Homo sapiens: one gene and its partner. The protein of the gene in region 1 interacts with the protein of each later gene in a pairwise test. Each region holds a gene or a part of one and is shown in the gene's direction. Other genes may lie near its edges. The genes, in order: PAQR5 and SGPL1.

Evidence for each region.
Region 2: the proteins of PAQR5 (region 1) and SGPL1 interact in binary tests that used the Homo sapiens proteins (3 or more experiments, as listed by UniProt).

The regions. Positions count from the first base shown.
Region 1 is NC_000015.10:69,296,770-69,300,679, forward strand, and holds the start of PAQR5 (membrane progestin receptor gamma), read left to right. Parts: upstream 1-2,142; 5' UTR 2,143-2,287; intron 2,288-3,910. UniProt on the Homo sapiens protein: Plasma membrane progesterone (P4) receptor coupled to G proteins. Seems to act through a G(i) mediated pathway. May be involved in oocyte maturation.
Region 2 is NC_000010.11:70,874,770-70,878,679, forward strand, and holds part of SGPL1 (sphingosine-1-phosphate lyase 1), read left to right. Parts: intron 1-632; coding exon 633-779; intron 780-1,771; coding exon 1,772-1,892; intron 1,893-2,425; coding exon 2,426-2,566; 3' UTR 2,567-3,910. UniProt on the Homo sapiens protein: Cleaves phosphorylated sphingoid bases (PSBs), such as sphingosine-1-phosphate, into fatty aldehydes and phosphoethanolamine. Elevates stress-induced ceramide production and apoptosis.

The DNA.
Region 1 (3,910 bases):
TTCCAGCTCCTTTCCCTTGCTGTACAAAGTTCCCACCTCTGCACTTTGCCTCACTCTTTCTTCCTGCCCACTGGTACGTATCCCAGTCCTTCCCACACTTCAGGTCTCCCTCGGCTGCACAGGAGGCTCAAATCCAGCATAGATTCCTGAAGTCCTGGGTCCAAGTTCTAGCTCTGCTACTGACTTCTTGTGACTGTGTGACCTTGGGCAGGTCACTTTCCCTCTCTGGGCCTCCATTTCATCACTATGAAATAGGAGTGTTGAACACAATACTCTAAATGCATCTCCATGTGGTCTAAGTACCCCCCTCCCCGGCCCCTCCCTGCCCTTCCCCCTCCTCTGATCATCCTGTGTGCTCACCATCCACAATCCCCTCTCCTGGCTCCACATCATTCTCCAAAGGGTTCATGTTCAATCATTCAGTTAGACTTTAAACTCCCTAAGAGCAGAGGAGGGTGATTTTGGCCAAGATATGCAGATCGATTCATCAGTAATCCACTGACCACCTCCATTTAGGTTGGGAGCCTCTTTATCTTCCCTCTTTAGTTTCTTCAAGGTGCACACACAGATACCTACAGCAGGCAGGAATCCAGGTGGGGCACCAGGCATCTCTGCTCACCTTGGCTGCTGGTGGTGGGGTGCCTGCCTGTGCTGTGCATGCTGCAGCTTTGGCAGGGTGGCCAATCAGTCCAGTGCCAGCCTTTGCCTCCCAGAGAATGCTTCACACCCTATTCTTCCCCCAAACCCATCACTGGCCCAGACATCAAAAGCACACATCCCTGTGCTATTCCCCTTCAAAGAGCTTCATATCTAATATCTCACTGAGTCCCCCGACTAGCCTTGGAAAGGCAAAGCAGGGATTATTAATCTCCATTTTGTAGATGGTGAGGGTCTTGTCCAAGGCTACTCTGAATTCAGCATAGAGCTGGGACTGGGCTCCACTCTTGTGTCCAGTCATTCTTGTCAAACTCTGGTCTGTGGAATATACATGCCTGCCTCTGTGTAGGCCCCAGTCTCTTTCCCTTTAAGAACTTGGGTCTGAGAGGACAAGCGCATGTCGCACGCACACACACACGCACATGCATACACACCCTTACAAGATGCACAGCCACCAAAAAGCCTAATAAAGCAAGGTGCCCAAGACCACGGTTCAGGATCCGTAAAAATGGCCGGAGATAATTGACTGCAACCTATTCACTGCAAATGGGGCAACTTGGGCCCACAAAGGGCCAGAGACTTGACCCGAGTCACAGAGTAGACTAGAGCCCAGGTCTCTGGACTCCCAGTCCTGTGCTCTCTCCACTGTGTGTGCCCTCAGCAAACAAGGCAAGGCAGGGAGGAGCAGGAGCTCAGAGAGCCTGGGGCTGAAGGGTGGGAGGAAAGAGCCTGGTGGGGGACTTCGGTCCACAGGTGTGGATGTTCCAACCTTTCTCTGGCAGGGTCGGGGTGGGGGCACCAGGTAGCTGCAACCTGTTCCTTCAGCACCTGGGAGGAGACACAGAGTCTGGTTCCCTGAAGCCAAATGTTTCTTCTTTGTCCTCTGTGTCCCTTCATCTCTTATAGCTGTGTCCACTGAGTGGCAGAGGTCCAGGCCCAGCGCCTTCCAGTCTAGGAGCCTGTGACCTGGGACAGGATCCCTGGGGAAAGGGTGAGGGCTGGCAAAGGGCCCGCCACCCTGAGCACTCCAAGAGACAGGGGTGGAACTCACTTCAAGGATTCAGGGCGGCGAGGATCCTCTCCCACCGGCGAAGCGGACACCGCGGTGGGGCTGCGAGTACCCAGTTGTTGTTTTTTTCTCCTTCCCTGTTCTCCACCCCATGCACTTTTCCGAGGGGCAAGCTCCGCAGTTCTCCCATCAAGGAGGCTCTCCAGGCTCCCTGCCGGCCTTCGGCTCCTGGGGTGGAGGTGGGCGTGGGGTACATGGGCCCTAGGAGAATGGGGTGTGAGAGACTCCCCTGGGCTTATGGCTTTGGTGGCACCTCAGGCTGTGGAATGGGGTGGCGAGTCTTTGGAAGTCACAGAGCCCAGGGTCGGTGGCACGTGATGAGGCGCAGGCCTGGCTCAGGGGGTGGTGCCCACGGCCCTCGGCTCCTCCCCCGGGGCCGCCCCGCCCCGCGCGGGAGGGGACGGGCGGGGACCGGCATGGGTAGGCGCGGCGACCCGCAGGGCCAGGTGCAGGGCCCGCGAGTCCGGGGTCGCCGCAGCCCGGGAGGAGTGTCTGGTCTCCGGCCTGCCTGTGCTGTCCCCGCGCCCTGTCCACTGGACTCCCGAGACCCTTGGAACCCAGGTAACCCGGGGCGGGACTCCCCGCCGCGCGCCGCCTCCCCACCTCCCGGTCCACGCGCACCCGCCCTCCGCGGCAGCCCCAGCCGCCCTGCGCCCGTGGAGCCCGTTGAGCCTGGGTGGCCGCTCCGAGGGCGGGTCTGGGAAAGTTTGTGCCGGGGCGGCCCTGATCCGGCGGCGGCGCGGCTCGGCCACTTTCACCGCACGCGGGGCCGGTGTGAAGGTGGGGCGGCCGCCGCCGTGCAGAAGGCTCTCTGCTGCAATCGAGGGCGGTGAGGGGAGCTGTTGCCTTCTCGCACCTTTTCTCTCACTCTCCAGGGCGTTTGCGCCGCTTATCCTTCCTCCACCGCCCCCCTCCCGCCGCCCCCACTTTAATAAAACCCTTGGATTGGGGCTGCACAGTTGGCGATTTCTTTACACCTGTGCTTCCCGCCTCCTGAGCCCAGATGTGAGCCTGGGCTGAGCAGGACCGTGTGGGTGAGGGGCGGCCCACTGCCTGCGGGGGTCGTCCCGGCCCTGTTGAAGTGGGTGCCCAGCTACAGGGAGTTCCCCCTGCTCTGTCATTGGCCTCCCCCCGGCCACAGCCCCCAGCTGGGCATCTCCTGGCTCCCCTAGCACTTCCCAAGTCCTAGTCGGATGAGCCCAGGAGAGGGGGTGGACCCCGGCCCAGCAGAACAAGAACTCAGGAGCCCGGTAACTCTTATCCGTGAGCAGAACCGGCTTCCTCCCGCTTAGGTTGGGAGGAGGGCTCAGCTTAGTGGGAGTCGGGGGTGACAACTGCCCCTTCCCACGCAGAGCCATAGAGAAGAGATGGGGAGAGGTCAGGGGATCTGAGAAGAGCTAGCAGCCAAAAAGGGACACATCCCTGATTTCATTTGAACCTAACAAACCAATGGCGAGTAGATATTAACACATGGGCAGATGAGAAGACAAGGAGGCCCAACAAAGCTCAGCCATTTGCTGGAGAAACTGGTGGGCTTTTCTCCACCACTGAGTGGCGGGTTTCCCACCGCATCCTTCCAGAGCTGCATGGTCGCTTCTGCATTCTTGCAGTGCCCTTGACTCAGCAGAGGTTTGTTTCTTTTACCCCACTCCCCACCCCCCTAGGTTCTGCCTGTGAAAGAGGTTCAGGGGAGAGGGCACCTCCAAGCAGACACAAACTCCAGTCAGTAAGGTCCTCCAAGAGCCAGCCAGAGCCTTGCTAAGCTCCCAGAACTGCAGGAGGGCAGGGACCTGCTTTGTTCCCTGCAGGGACCTGCTTTGTTCCCTGCCGTAGCAATAGTACCTGGCACACGGAAGGTGCTCTGCGAGAATGGAATGATTAGCCTGCAACAGCAAAGCTTCTTTTCCAACTGCCTTATCTCTGCCCTTGGCAAGCAGAAAGGGCACTCTGAAAAGTTGGATCAGAAAGGTGTCCAGCCCCACCACTGAGATCCCTTGGCACCCTTACCCACGTGGGGCAACATTTTCCCCTTACACCAAGAGTACATCCTTAATCCCGTATGCTTTTCTTTCTTTCTCTTTCTTTCTTTCTTTCCTTCTTTCTTTCTTTCTTTCTTTCTTTCTTTCTTTCTTTCTTTCTTTCTTTCTTTCTTTCTTTTCTTTCTTTCTTTCATTCTTTCTCTTC
Region 2 (3,910 bases), on another chromosome or scaffold:
GTGCACCTTTGGTCCCAGCTACACAGGAGGCTTAAGGCAAGAGGACTGCTTGAACAGCCCAGGAATTTGAGGTTACAGTGAGCTATGATCACACCACTGCACTCTAGCCTGGGTGACAGAGCAAGACCCTGTCTCAAATAAATAAGCAAACAAATAAATAAAAATTAGATATATATAAAAGGTCCTCCTATAGCTCTGATAGGGCCATTTATTAAGACCTGCTATACCATTTCTTGCTTTAGGGATTACATATGACTTTTTAGAACTGTGGAGATGGGCAGATTACTTTTCCAGAAATTTTTTTAGTACATCTTTCATGCCTCAGAAGCATCTAGGGGAATATAATTGGGAGTTGGGTAGACAGGTTCGAAGTCAGTGATTGAGTCATTAGATCTAGATGGGGTTTGGGCCTTGGAATTCCATTTTTATTGTTCCATCTATGATTCTGATCTCAGTAAGAACCACTGATCCAGTGTAGCCCTCTTCTTTTTTGAAGATGAGAAGACTAAAGCCCAAAGGGTTAGATTGCATTCATTATAAGGAAGACTTTGAATGATTAAAGAGATAGTGACCAGGGGATTGTATGTGACTGAATTTACTTTTTCTTCCTTCATTTATTTTTTTGTTTTAAGACTGGAAAATATCAAAGGCATCTTTGTTTTTGGGAATCCCCAATTGTCAGTCATTGCTCTGGGATCCCGTGATTTTGACATCTACCGACTATCAAACCTGATGACTGCTAAGGGGTGGAACTTGAACCAGTTGCAGTTCCCACCCAGGTAAGCTTGAAGAAGCCTCTTTCCCTTATTTTGCTCCATGATTTTGGAAGAACTTGGGTGGTACAGTAACCTGAAGTATAGAGTTTGACTGCTAGAGGCTAGCACGTTAGTAGCAACTGTAGTATATAAAGGATTTCTCTCTTGCCACCTGGAATTATTAGATACAAAGAACAAGACCATTAGCTTTAAACTCTGGCAGAATTAGGTGACAGCCTCCTAGACCAGTGGTTGGTCATGAGGTTTTTCTCTCAGTCTCTAGCCTTTCTACTCTCCAATCCATCTTGTACACAGCCATCAAATTGCTCTTATAAAATACTTGTTACCTGGCTAATATTTAGTTCAAGATCTTCCTGGGGGTCTCTAATCATTCAGGCCTGCTACTGCCTTCTTTATTAGACTTTTCTAACCTAATCTTCCATGATGCCTTTGAGTAAATGCACCACTCCAACTGAGTACAGGTCTGTTCATGTCCTCTGTGTACAGCTTAGCCTTCCACACGTTGGTGCATTGCCAGTCCCATCTGGACTATCTTTTTCCCTCTTCACAATTCCAGTAAACCCCACTAAATTCCTCCAGGGCGAGGTAGAATTTCTTCTGTGCCCTGAAGTCCTTTAAGACCCCAGCCATGTGGCCCTGTCCCCATGAGAGCACATGGGGGCTGATTATCTAAGATAAAAGTGTCTCATTGATGGTGACGTGGTTGAAGGAATGGTGGTGGAATTTGTGAGGGGATGGGTGGGACAAAGCAGCCAACACTGTTCATCCTCTTAGCATGGTTCTCAGTCATGCCGAGAAGCTCTGAGGCCAGCCCATGCCTGACACCCCAAGCATGAGAGAGCCGAGATTCCCAGGACTAGGAACAACTTGGATGACTACACTTGTCAGAAATATTGTGAAAGGGCAACCAGGAAATTCCCGTATTTGGGGCTGCATCATTTTAGAACATTTTTTCTTTCTTCAAGGTTCATCTCTCTCTGTCTCTTCTTTCCTAGTATTCATTTCTGCATCACATTACTACACGCCCGGAAACGAGTAGCTATACAATTCCTAAAGGACATTCGAGAATCTGTCACTCAAATCATGAAGAATCCTAAAGCGAAGACCACAGGAATGGTAGGGACACTTGGAGTTTTTTTTCTTCTCTTGGAAATTTAGGTGTTGGTGGAGAGTTTGAAGGAATCATATGACCCGGAGTCTGTTCCTGCCTCTGCCCCTTTGCCACAGACATCTTTTATTTGTTGACTGGAGCTGATGATCTCTGCATCACCCACCCCTTAGGGTTGCTGAAGTCTCAAATGAGATACACTATAAAGTACCTTGTAAGTTAGAGACTTCTGTATAAAAGCAGCTGGTGGTAGTGTCCATTTGAAAAGAAAATTTTGTCACAGGAAAGATAGTAAACATGTTTTTTCTGGAATTTTCTTAGGCTAGTCCCTTTATGCAGAAAGGCAGACTGGAAAGTCCCTGTGAAAAATTGACTATGCCAGCTGTTTTTCTGATAGAATGATGGGATGCCTTAGGTGGAAATGGGGTAGGGCAGTGCACATGCGAAGCTAGGACTCGGGGAGAAGGGGCTCATTGCTGCAGTTTTATTCTTGCTTTTGGACCTGGCCTCACTAATAATGTCTCTTTCTTTGGATTTGTAGGGTGCCATCTATGGCATGGCCCAGACAACTGTTGACAGGAATATGGTTGCAGAATTGTCCTCAGTCTTCTTGGACAGCTTGTACAGCACCGACACTGTCACCCAGGGCAGCCAGATGAATGGTTCTCCAAAACCCCACTGAACTTGGACCCTTTCTAGTCTCAAGGGGATTCCAGCCTTCAGAAGGTTCTTGGGATATGGAACAGGCCGTGCACAACTTTGACATCTGGTCTTGCTCCATAGAGCACAACTCAAGATAGACCATGAGACAGCTTGAGCCTCAGGATTCTTGTTCTTCCTCTTATCTTCCTTTTGTGGTTTTTAATTTGAAGACCCCAGAGAATTCCATTACATAATGATTTTGCCCTTGTTATAAATGTTACCCTAGGAATTGTTTTAACCATTTCCTTTTCTAAACTCTCTAGCTTTCAACTTTACTTAAACATTGTGTGGTAGCTCTGACCTGTCCTGATTCTTTAGAGAAGCTGGGGTACAGTTTATGAGATAGCTAGAGCTTCTTTGTTATCTCAGGCAGGAGGCGTTTACATAACAGATGTTTCCTCAGCTGGGTGTGAGGTATACTCTAAGCAGGAGGCTTTTTCAGCCTTCTCTCTCTTTTTTTTTTTTTTTTTTTTTTTTGAGATGGAATTTTGCTCTTTTGCCCAGTCTGGAGTGCAGTGGCATGATCTCAGCTCACTGCAACCTCCACCCACTGGGTTCAAGCGATTCTTCTGCCTCAGCCTCCCGAGTAGCTGGGATTACCGGCACCCACCACCACGCCTGGCTAATTTTTCAATTTTCTTTTTCAGTAGAGACGGGTTCACCGTGTTGGCCAGGCTGGTCTTGAACTCCTGACCTCAGGTGATACCCGCCCCCCCGCCTCAGCCTCCCAAAGTGCTGGGATTACAGGCGTGAGCCACCGTGCCTGGCCCTGTCTCTCTTAAGAGTAGGTTCATTGTCTGTCTTAGAGTCACTTCTATTGCAACTCATTTTCTTTTTCCAGGGCACAGATCGACCAAGCTGCCGTTCCCTATTCTGCAGGACAGGACTATTCTAGCATACCTGCTTCGTCCACCCAGGCAGGGTTTGGGGTGGTCTCTTCTGTGCCTGCAGTCCCCATTTGACACTTGGTTGCCACCATCTTTGGAGATTATTGTTTGGAATGATGCTTCCATTGGCTTTTTCTTGTTACCATGGACTAGGAAGAAAACATGGTTTCCAAATAATCTGGGAGCTTTTGGCCATGGTGCCGCCTTCCTGAATTGGCAGTGGTCAGAGCACACCTGAACCCTATCCTGGGCTGGTGATGAGCAGAAATCAGACCTTTTTCTATGCTTTTTTGAATATCAGAGTAGGATGAACACCCAGATTCAAATATGTCACCAAAGTTGGTGGTGGTCCTTCCCTGCACCCTTGCGTTAAGCCATTATGTAATGAAAATGTGTTTGCTTGAAGGAACAGCTCAAAGCACCTTCACAAGTTGCCT